Regions from separate parts of the Homo sapiens genome. Here region 2 is linked to region 1. A link means that fine-mapping ties the variant in region 1 to the plasma level of a protein whose gene starts in the linked region. Region 1 holds a variant in brackets. A gene starts in the other region. All regions are shown on their forward strands.

The links. PIP is the posterior inclusion probability: the model's chance that the variant is causal. Protein levels are from antibody-based Olink assays in UK Biobank. Linkage for the fine-mapping came from a reference panel and not from the study's own genotypes, which makes the PIPs less certain.
Region 2: it holds the start of FLT3LG, and the variant in region 1 is fine-mapped to the plasma level of the FLT3LG protein (UK Biobank, PIP above 0.99).

The regions. Positions count from the first base shown.
Region 1 is chr4:104,939,133-104,947,582 of GRCh38, forward strand. No RefSeq gene overlaps it. Among named protein-coding and RNA genes, the nearest start is that of TET2, 200 kb to the right of the region's middle. RefSeq lists an enhancer at 4,255-4,334. The variant ACT/A (reference allele first, on the strand shown) is at 4,240.
Region 2 is chr19:49,470,502-49,474,469 of GRCh38, forward strand. FLT3LG (fms related receptor tyrosine kinase 3 ligand) reads left to right here and starts at 3,714. Exons shown (of 9, transcript NM_001459.4): 1 at 3,714-3,780. It overlaps ALDH16A1 (aldehyde dehydrogenase 16 family member A1), which reads left to right. Exons shown (of 17, transcript NM_153329.4): 17 at 1-549.

The DNA of each region.
Region 1 (8,450 bases):
ACAATTCTGATTTATATTTTATCTCTTAAGTGCAATATTAGTTCTCCTCCTCTTCAGGTCTTGGTGTCTCATTAATTATCTTGAACAAAGCGCTTTTGGTGTATGCTGTATTTTTGCTGTACATTTTTTATTGAGATGTAAACTCTTATTGATTTGTAAGAGATTTTTGTATATTAAGAATAATAGGCCTCTTTGTATCACATACATGAAAAATGCTTTTTTCTACTGGTCATCTGTCATTCAACCTCACTTGGACTGTTTATCTGATATAGAAGTACATTTTATTTTATTTTATTTTATTTTATTTATTTTATTTTATTTTATTTTTTGAGACAGGAGTCTTACTCTGTCACCAGGCTGGAGTGCAGTTGCACATCTCAGCTCACTGCAACCTCCGCCTCCCGGGTTCAAGCAATTCCCCTGCCTCAGCCTCCAGAGTAGCTGGGACTACAGGCATGCACCACCACGCCCGGCTAATTTTATGTATTTTAGTAGACACAGGGCTTCACCATTTTGGCCAGGATGGTCTCGAGCCCCTGACCTTGTGAATAGATGTAATTTTTATATTTACGTTTGTCAATCTTGTTTTTTATTGTTTCAGTTTTTTTGTGTTATGCTTACAAAGGCCTTCCCACCCTAATATTACATTTAAAATCTAATTATATTTTCTGCTGTTAGTTTTACAGGCTTTTAAAACAAGTACAAATTATGTAAAGAACACTGTAGGAATGATGTGTTTCCCCAAATTATTACATATTGGATAAGCATTTATTCATTAATGCATTTTTCCCTACTGATTCAAAATGCTAACTTTATTATATACTAAATATCCCTATACATAGTTGGATCTGAGGTTAGATGTTTTGTTTCTCAACCATCTATTTCCTAGCCAGTTCCACATTGTTTTAACTTCAGTGTTTTTGTGGTACATCTTAACACCTGACAAGGCAAGGCTCATTCTTCATATTTTTGTTTTTCAGAATTCTTCTAGCTGTTCTTGCATGTTTATTCTTCAAAGTAAAATTTGAAATCATTTTATCAAGCTCCTCACCACCTTCCCACAGCAAATGAGAATTTTGATTGATATTACAATGCAAATAGAATAAATTCAAACAGAATTGACCTCTTTTAAAAAATAAAGCCTACTTTTTCTAAATTGTGTCTCCCCACTTAATCAAATGTTTTGTAATGTTCTCAAATCTTTTATTATCATATAAAATGTTATAATTTTACATATCTTGTTCATTTTACATTTCTTAAGACTATTTCTAGATATTAAATGTTGCTTAGTTATAAATGTAAATGGGATAATTTCCGTTTGTGTTTTCTATTCAAGAACGTGTTAGAAATCTACTGATTTTATTTATTTTACACCATCTACCTTAAGGAATACTCTTATTTTCTTAAGTCTGCAAGATCTATTTTTTAAAAAAATATTTTCAAAGAAAACTTGTTGATTTAAAATAGTTCAGGAAACAACTAAGTGATTGTATAATTTAAAATGGGAAAAGTGACTGCTGGTTTAAAATATAAATTTAAAATTTAGACACACACACACACACACACACACACACACACACCAACACAAATATATCACAAGAATCCTTGGATTGGGACATGTTTTCTTTTAAAATTTGAGTATTAGCAAAAGCAAGGAATTCAGTAGCTCTATGAACCACTCACTGTTTCCAGAGCTCTTCCACTGGAGCACCATTTTGTTTCCTTACAAAGAGAATGGACTTCCCTTAGATGGCTGCTCCAAGCAATCACTCTTTTTTAATGGTTCTCAAAAATAAAATGTTACCATTTAAAAATCAGAAAAGAAAAAACATCTCATCTGATGCTTGTATTACATTTTCTTTTACCGGATTCACAGCATATGATTAACAATGCACATAAACTTGGCTCTGTGATTTTGTGTTTAGATAATGATTGAAATCCATTAAACTATCCTTTTATGGTTGATATTCTGTCAGCTGAACATCCAGCAGATTCTTTTTATAGAAATATGATTTGATCTGCAATGTCCTGGAACATGTTTTCCCAGCTATTTGGCTTCAAGTTTATGGTAATTACCAGGCATTATCTCACAATTTCTACTGCTCCCAGGAACATTAAAATCCCACCACCCCTAGAAGCTTTTCTTGAGGATGAACCGTGGAAATCCTATGCCATTCCCTACAGGCTCTACTCAAGTGATAGGGTTTGTTTTTGTTTTCTTTTAACTGTTTCTTGTATTAAGCCTTATTTTTCATATGTCTTATCCCTCCAAATCACTTAAAATTTCCTCAGGAGGAATAAGGAAGAATTAACGTTTTGGGGCTCTCAGTACCAGCCTGGTCTCATTGCTTTGAATACATTTTTTCATGGCAAATATTAGTTATTATTGACATTTTATCTCCTGAGATACCTACTTCAGTGCCCAATGAATAGATGCTTGTTAGTTATATAACTGAACAGTCATCAGAGTATTTTTTTCTTAAATAATTTCCATCTAAGTGAAACAATAGCTCTTTTATTTTTACTTTAAGTTGCCAATGTAACAATAAAAGTTCATTGTGAATCAAGATATGTAAGGAATTTGGTGGCATTTTTTTTTTAGAATTACAAAACGTCAATAGCTTTTTATTAGTGGTATAGTTTCTCTATGAAACACCCTGAACTATAGTAGAGGCTTGCTGAAGATATAGAAGATTCATTTGTCCTTTCATAGCAGTTCCTTTGACCAATAGTTTCTGCTTAACATTAGTCACTCATTCTGCTTATTTTCTCACTGATTCTGCTAATGAGTCATAGATTATTTTGCATCTAAATCTCAGAAGTGTAGATCAAAGTCCTTCATGTGTAATGAAATGAAACTAATAACAGCAACCATTTATTGAGTGATTGTTATGTGTCAGGAACTGAGTGTCCTACTTGTGTAACTGCATTTAATTATCGTAACTACCCATTAGGTTGATGCTATTATCATCATCATTTTAAGGATGAGTAAACTAACTCTTAGAGAAGTAAAGTCAGACAATGCAAAGCCTAAACTTTTATCCATTTACATATACAATGAAACAACATAAGAATTGCAAGAGTGAAATATCTACTTTCCTAGTGAAGTTTATATGAAATTTGGGATACCTGTGGGGCAGCCATTATGATAGAAACAGAACTAGGAGAGTGGAAATGAGCTCTCTCTGGAAATACTTTCATAAACATCTCCTGAAACCCTACCACCAGGTTGGCAAATCATTGTTGTCTCCATCTTACATAGGGAATGGCTCAAAGTCACATAGTTAAGAAGTGGCAAAGACAGATCCATACTCAGGTCTTATAGATTCCAGGCCAAAACCCATCCATTCCCCACCACCACCATTTAACCCAGTTTCACAGGCGTGGTGGCAGCGATGGCAAAATTTGTCCTTCATAGTGTCACATCCATGGCTTCCTAAAGGCTCACATTACCCTCCTACAGACAGCATGGCTGTCTCCAACATGTCTCAACCAAAGTAACTACTGATCTCTATTGTGATGTAAAATAAAACATCCCTTATTAGTGCATTTTCTTTTGTGCCCTGTTTTTCATCCTGGATATCAACAAAAGGCCAATCAAACCAGTAAAAATGTTTAAAATTCTGTATATAACTTTTAGTCCATTTGATGCTCTATATACTTACAAGCACATTTTATAAAATTAGCTGCTTGAAAATCATGTAGATATATATATTGTTTCAACTTAATTATTCTGTGCAATATAGCACTCACCACAGCCAATTGTTTAAAGTATCCCAATGGCCTTCCAAACTCTCCTATATGCTCTACAAAGCATAGTTGTTCTGAGCCCCATCTGCACAGCACAGATAGCCGTGTTCCTCAAGTATTCTATGTGCTCCTCTCTATGCCCCAACCTCTCATGCAGTTAGACTGGGGACATGCAACCAGTCTGGGTCATTCAACTATGTATGTGTTAAATCATTAAACCTCACAATAAGGTAGGTATGCTGTGATTTCTTGGATTCTGTATTCGTCTGTGAGGCATCCATTCAAAACAGGGCCAGCTTTATTAAACTACATTTTCTTAATTTCTATAGTTCTTGATGCTCTAGAATCTGGTGGCCTTACAGACCCAGAAAGAGACTATCTTCCCTAGAGCTGGCTAATTCTGAGAGTCGGCGAAGGTCTTAGCTGAGAGCACAGCTCTCACGTACAAACCAACCAATCCTGAATCTACAGCCCCAAACTCCTTATCTA[ACT/A]CTCACACAACAAACCAATATTTCCCTTGCCCTAAATCTTCCCAGTTACCAGGCAACTAGAGATCACCCTTATAGCCCAAAGTCCTCTGGAATCATTCAAACTGGCCAATCCTAAACTGTTTACTCTGCTCTGCCTTCCTTTTCGCACAGAAACCTCAAGAAAGGCTCTGGCCTAGACTTGCCCCTTGTTCCTGTCTTCTGGCTCTTGACTGACACTGGTGCTTTCCCCCTGTGGTCCTGCATGGTGTGTGGTGACTACCTCATTGGGCCCTGTGAGTAGAATAAATTCCTTTCTAAGCTTTGTTCTTGTTTTCTCTTGCGGCTGCACTAACTTTACCATACCCCAGCCAAAATATACATTCTTAGAAGAGTAGGTACTATTTTTAACCTCATTTTAGAGATGATGAAACTAAAACACAGATATAATACTTTAAACAATTTATCCAAGATAACATGAGAAGCCAAGATTCTAACCCAGGCAAGCCAGCTCAAGATTGTAATAAAAACAGGGCTTTGTCTTCTCCATCCTCCACACATCTGGAATAGCACTTAGCTTTACGGTTTTTCTTTGCATTTAATTGATGCACTGCAAGACTACTTGTGTAGATTTTCAGTGTCGTCAAAAAGTAACAGCCACAGATTTTGGTAATTGAATTCGTGGTCAGCTCTGCTTTGCTAGCACAAATCCTAGTTTTATTTTAGATTTTACCTTATTTCTAGCCTTTAGATTTCTAGATACCTTTCTATTTCATTGTCTTCCTGGTCTTCTAGTCACCAACATCCCTTAGTATTCTTGCCCAGCTCTGACACAATTCTAATCCTATCTTTTCTGATGTATATAGAAGGAGAATGAGGGAGATTATTTATAAAGTATATTCACAAAGACAGGTAAAGGGACATTTGGGAGGATGAGAGCTGTCCTTTTTCTCTAGGCTACACCATATTTACACAATTGCTACACCAAGGCATCTGTATTTTTGCCATCATCATCAAAGCTCCCAGGATTTCTTCTACATGCAAGAAAGCTAATCTAGCATGATCTAATATAAAACCAAATATGACAGTCCAAAACTTTTGTAAAGGAGAAACTAGGGCAACAGTGATTAGCAGTGTATTAGGTTAGTTCCCCCAGAGAAACAAATCTCACTATGATCTGAAGATTTCTAAACAGCCCTTTGAGCTTCATGAGCAAACCTTATACTAACTCATTCTTACAAGGACCTTTTAGAAGACCAGAACACTTCTATAGAATCCTTAAACAAGAATTAATATGTTTTCCCCAGATTAACACCCAAGAGTCAGAAAAAAAATTTCTGGCTAACTGATGCATAATTGTTTATGGACATCAGCTTGCCTTGAGTATATTCAGCTTTAATGTTAATAGGAAAAAATGTATTTCTAATAAATATTTGCTGCCACAAGCAGAAAGATAAGAAAGTCTGTTAGGGAAAACTGCCAATGTCCTAGTATCATGTTTCCAAGAAGGGGCTTCTGGAATAACACTTCCTCTAGAGTCCTCACATATCTTCTGTGTTTTTTAAATGAGGAGGAGAGACACAGGTAATTGGGGAGATTAAAACAAGACACTGGAAGTATGGCTCAGCCCCTTTATAGTCACTAAGATATGTAGAGAATAGGGGTCTTTTATGAGGGCAACAGGCCCTGGTGACAAATATTTTGAGGCCTCCAAGAAAGGGTGAACTAACAATATCTTTACAGAGGTCTGTATTCAGATCCACACTTCTTCCAGACCACAAATCCCAATTGTTTGTAGTGAATTCCCCTCTTCTCTCATTGCCGCTGGCCTTCTCTTCTAGATCCTAAACTTAATGTAGTAAATATACGTGGGTCAAGGCTCAAACTTCCTTCTTGGAGCACCTTATCCCCCTGTCTCCTCTACTAGGGTTCAGTAGAGATGAGGCAGTAACGATCTAAGTTGGCCTTCTTTACGTTGTTCTGATGGATTATCCCAAAGCATAAGCTTAAGGAAAAACAGAAACAATTCAATTTTCCACTACTTAGGAAGCATCTAAGCTCACACACAAATCCAATGTTAATAGCTGATCATTTAATCCTGAACTATCTGACTCTTGACAATTTCTCAACCAGTTCCAAACTCAGAGAGGATTTACGGGGTCAGGGTAATGATCCTACACCTGTTCAAACCTCAACAAAGTCATGTCAAAAGTAATCTAGAAAGCTATGTATGTAGTTTTTAACACCTACCTAACAAGGTAGATGCTAAGGAAAAAAACAAAATTCATCACACCCAAGGTTCCCTACATCTTCCTACGTCCAAAGTTTATTTCCTAATAATATCAGGTAGAGTTATATGCCTTTACGCTGAATTTTACTTCATGGTTGAGCCCACAGAATCTTAGAACTGAAAATAACTTTATGGAAGACTGAATAGGTCACAAAGCTAGCTATTGACAGAGCTAAAACTGGAACTCTAGTCTTCACATTCCCAGCTGGGTTCTCCTTCCATTATAGGAGACTCCCTCCTAATGCTTTTTGGTAAGCTAATTCTCTGTGTGTCTTCATTCCTTTTTAACATATGAAAGGGATATTTTGTGGTAAAAATAAATAGTTTCATAACTATAAAGCATCAGAATTTGAAGGAAATTTAGAGAAAAGATGTCAGCCCTTCTGTCATTTTATTGATGAGGCTGTGGAGGGTCATAGATAACTCAGCTAGACTATAATACTCCTGGATCTTAGCTCATTACACTTTCCTTCACAAAAGAAAAAAATGCCCATTCTAATCATTGCAAGCCAAAACTAATGTTGTATTTCTTTCTGATTGACAAGTTGCAGAGAAAATAATAGGTATTTAACCTCCTAAATAAAAGCATAAGCAGTAGATTTCTATAAGTATCATGCAACTCTCTACAGAGACCATTTTATTGACTGATTTAAATTAGCTTCTTCCTAAAACTTACCCATCTACCTTTTTGGTAATATAATTGCCCATTCTAACATAGACAACATTTAAAACACCAACCCAATTTCTTCGGTGGAAAACAATTCAATGATGAATGCTGATGAAAACCATTAGTTGTGCAAAACCATACTAAGTTGTTTCAGTAACAAGACAGGGACTGTTTAATGAAGCATGTCTCAACAATAAATAACAACAATAAAGAGAAATTTACTGCTTTGTGCTATATTGGACATTCATCATATACCCCAGAGCACTGGAAATTAAAATGGAAAATATCTGTTAATATATAAGTAAAAAGATAGAAAATATTTAAATAAGGTCAAACTACATTTTGATTATAATTTTTTAAAACAGGCTTATTTCTAATACATATATGTAAACTGAATAAGTGCTACATTTATTATACATTCGTTTGGTGTTTCTGCTGAATAATAATGTGAACACTGAGACTCCTACATAGTTGTAACACTTTAGAAAGGATTTACTCCAGAGACCATGATTTATTATTTTCACAGAAAATGCTGGGATATATGAAGTACTGACCTCCCTAAGAACTGCATCAGTGTGTGTGTTCTAGGCTTGAGGGCTCTGATATGGTCTGAATGTTTGTCTCCCCACAAAATTTGTATGGCAAAATCCTAATCCCCAAGGTGATGACATTAGGAGGTGGGGCCTTTGGGAGGTAATTAGGTCATGGGGGCATTAGGAGGTGGGGCCTTTGGGAGGTAATTAGGTCATGGGGGCAAAGTCCTCATGAATGGGATGAATGCCTTTATTGATGGGACCTCGGAAAGCTAGCTAGCTCCTTTTCCACCATGGGAGGATACAGTGAGACGGTGCCTTCTATGAACGTGGAAATTGGCACTCACCAGACACCAATCTACCAATACTTTGATCTTGCCCTTCCCAGCCTCCAGGACATGAGAAATAAGATTCTGTTATTTATAATCTATACAATTTATGACATTTTTGTTACAGCAGCTCTAATAGACTAAGACTCCATCTTTAGAAGAAAACACTGTAAGAACTCATAATTTATAGTAAGACTGCCACAGAGGAACACGGGTCAATTTCTAAGAGAAGAATCCCAGATGGGACCAATCATTAATGCTCCTTCTTCCCCTCTAAAGTATAAGCCACTCACCTAGACAGAAAGTTCCTTGTGAGCAAGGATAGCATAGAGTTAACCATTGTGCACCCACCACAACCAGGACAAAGCTTTTCCTTTATATCTGCACCCTCTCTTCCCGCCCTCTGATCTTGTT
Region 2 (3,968 bases), not on the chromosome of region 1:
CACACCAAGGGGAGATGCACCCCACAGACACCTGGGACTTTCCCCTTCTGGTTCCTGTGTCTCCCAATAAACTCTCTGACCAACCCTAGCTGTGCTTCTGCGAGAAGAAAGGGTGTAGCAACTTCTGGCAGATATGAGGCTTTTTTCTTTTTTTTTTTTTTTTTTGAGACAACGTCTGGCTCTGTCACCCAGGCTGGAGCGCAGTGGCACAATCTCGGCCCACTGCAGCCTCGACCTCTGGGGCTCAAGGGATCCTCATGCCTCAGCCTCATATGTAGCTGGGGCCACAGACATGCACCACCACACCTGGCTCGAGGCCATTTTAGTTCTGAGGTTGAGCAGCTCAGGAGCCGGCTCCAGCACGGTGCTGTGTTTGTGAAACAGAGAAAGGGGACCCCCGAGGACCCCAGACAGGGCCTTAGGACTCTCATATCTTCTTGTCTTCTCCATCTGGTGGCTCTTGCTCTCTGGTTTTCTCTACCTTTTCATGGCCCCAGAATCCATATGCAGTAAAGGAACTCTCTGGAATAAAATTAAAGTCCTCCTATATGACTTTTGTCAATTTCCATGATGTAAATGCTCCCACCGTGCCGGATTTCAAGGTACAGGTGATTAAACAACTGCCTGCGAGATCCTGAATTGTTAACAGGTCAGCTCCCATGAGCCAATACGAGCCGCTTCAGCACACCACTGCCTTAGGATTCTGGTTGTGGGTGGGTTTTTTTGGTTTGTTTTTTGTTTTTTCGAGACAGAGTCTCTCTGTCGGCCAGGCTGGAGTGCAGCGGGGTGATCTCGGCTCACTGCAACCTCCGCCTCCCAGGTTCGAGCGATTCTCCTGCCTCGGCCTCCAGAGTAGCTAGAATTACAGGCTCGCGCCACCACACCCAGATAATTTTTTGTATTTTTAGTACAGACGGGGTTTCACCATCTTGGCCTGGCTGGTTTCAAACTCCTGACCTCAAGCGGTCCGCCTGTCTTGGTCTCCCCAAAGTGCTAAGATTACAGACTTAAGCCACTGCGCACGACTGTTGATTTTTAAATAAAGGATCTTGCTCTGTTTTTTAGGCTGTAATACAGTGGCGCAGTCACAGCTTACTGAACCCACCCTCGACCTGGGCTCAATCCTCCCACCTCGGCCGGGCGTGGTGGCTCACGCCTATAATCCCAGCACTTTGGGAGGCCGAGGCAGGTGGATCATGAGGTCAGGAGATCAAGACCATCCTGGCTAACACGGTGAAACCCCGTCTCTACTAAAAATACAAAAAAATTAGCTGGGCATGGTGGCGGGCGCCTGTAGTCCCAGCTACTTGGGAGGCTGAGGCAGAAGAATGGCGTGAACCCGGGAGGTGGAGCTTGCAGTGAGCCGAGATCGAGCCACTGCACTCCAGCCTGGGCGAAAGAGTGAGACTCCGTCTCAAAAAAAAAAAAAAAAAATCCTCCCACCTCAGCCTCCTGAGCAGCTGGGACCACAGGCACGCACCACCATGCCTGGCTAATTTTTTTTTTTTTAATAGGCAGAGTCTACCTACGTTGCTCAGGCTGGTCTTGAACTCCTGGCCTCAAGCGATCCTCTCGCCTCAGCCTTTCAAAGTGTGGGACTGCAGGCATCAGCCACCACACCTGAAGTAGAATTCTTTTTGATGTAAGAAACCCACTCTTACTAGTTTAGGATAAAAGGGAGTTTTCAGAGGCCAGGCTCGGTGACTCAGGCCTGTAATCCCAACACTTTGGGAGGCCGAAGTAGGCGGATCACCTGAGGTCAGGAGTTTGAGAGCAGCCTGGCCAACACAGTGAAACCCTGTCTGTACTAAAAATACAAAAATTAGCTGGGTGTGGTGGCGGGCACCTGTAATCCCAATTACTCAGGAGGCTGAGGCAGAAGAATCACTCGAACCCAGGAGGCAGAGGTTGCAGTGAGCTGAGAGCACACACTTCACTCTAGTCTGGGCAACAGAGCAAGGCTCCATCTCAAAGAAAAAAAAAATGAGAGTTTTCCGGACTAGGTGTGGCAGTTCACACCTGTAATCCCAGCACTTTGGGAGGCCGAGGTGGGTGGATCACTTGTCAGAAGTTTGAGACCAGCCTGGGCACCATGGTGAAATCCCGTCTCTACTAAAATTATAAAAATTAGCCAGGCGTGGTGGCGGCACCTGAAATCCCAGCTATCTGGGAGGCAGGAGAATTGCTTGAACCTGGGAGGCAGAGGGGGAGCTTGCAGTGAGCCAAGATCGTGCCACTGCACTCCAGCCTGGGCAACACAGCGAGACTCGGTCTCAAAAAAAAAAGAGAGAGAGAGAGGAGTCTTCTGGAAGGCTACAGAGATTCCCTAGAGGCAATAGGGCGATAGGGCAGGACACACATTGAGGGGCCCCAGGACTTGGTCAGGAAGGAGCTAGAGCAGGTCCTTTGTCCATGGGCCACATGAGCTATTGGGGCTTGTATCTCTGCCTCTCTGCTTCATTTAAATCTTTCTAGCCAGATGGAAGGTCTGACCATTGGGTGCGACAAGGCAGCTAACCCAGGCTGAACAGGAAGTGAGGCAGGCAGAGGGATCAGGGAAGGGAAATGGATGATGAAGGCCAGGACGGGCGAGGCTTTGCTGCAGTAACACATAACCCCCGAATCTGCGTGGGCCACAACCACAACATTAGTTTGTTGCTTACACTCCCTGTGCTCATCCGGGGCTGGCAGGATCCCTGTGCTCCTCCGAGTGGCACAGGAAACTTGGCTGATAGAGGCGCTCTCTCCATGCATCCTCCACCATCCACTCCCCGGTCCCTTAGACTTCCATTCAGAAGTGACACCTGTCACCTCCACCCTCATGTGACTGGCCAAAGTGAGTGTGGCCATGTCCGAGTTCCCCAGGATGGGACCTCGAATCCTCCTGCTGGGGGGGTGGGGGCAGCAGATGTTTCAGGACAGTCTGCCACGGATCAGATGGGTGAGCAAGAGATTCAGGATGGGCGTGATGGGTCACACCTGTAATCCCAGCATTTTGGGAGGCCGAGGCAGGCTGATCACCTGAGGTCAGGAGTTCGAGATCAGCCTGGCCAACATAGTGAAACCTCGTCTCTACTAAAAATACAAAAATTAGCCGGGCATGGTGGCACGCACCTGCAATTCCAGCTACTTGGGAGCCTGAGGCACAAGAATTGCTTAAGCCCAGGAGGCGGAGGTTGCCGTGAGCCGAGACTGTGCCACTGCACTCCAGCCTGGGCAACAGAGTGAGACCCCATCTAAAAAAAAAAAATGCTTCAGAGATTCAGAGATCCACAGATGTGGAAGAGAGCTTCTATTTTGTCTCATGTACCACCTCACCCCTCAGTTTGGAGTTGGAGAAGCCGAGGCTTAGAGAGGTCAAGGGGCTGGCCAAGCTCCCACAGTGATAAAGCTAGTGCTAGGGCGACACCTGCCAGGCCCAATGTGACAAGATGCATCCTGAGTCCTGTGTGCCAAGCCTTGGCGGGGCAAAGTTGGGGCCCGGAGGACGGTAAGACACAGCAACTGCGAGTTCCCAGAGACAGATCCGGGTTCCAGCCCCAGCTCACCATGCACTGGGCGTGCCACCCAGGGAGTCAGCCCCACTGCAGCCCCCGCTGCGGGGCGTCCGGAGAACGCGCCATCTGCGGCGTGAGCGGCCGCCTCTCACCACCAGGGGGCGCGCTCCGCCTGGGCCCAGATTCCACCCCTTGACTGTCTCCCCCCAAAAATTTCCTTTCACTTTCGGTCTCTGGCTGTCACCCGGCTTGGCCCCTTCCACACCCAACTGGGGCAAGCCTGGTGCGTGAGGAGACTTGGACTCTAGGTCCCCAAGGGGCGGAGCCAGGGTCCCCACTCCTGGGGCAGGGGGAGCAGAGGGTGGGGGGCTGGGTTCCCGGGTCCCTAACCTGGGGAGGGTTCTGGGGACCAGACGTCGAGGTTCTTAGAAGTGGAGATGAAGAGTTTTCACCGTAACTGGGGCAGACGCA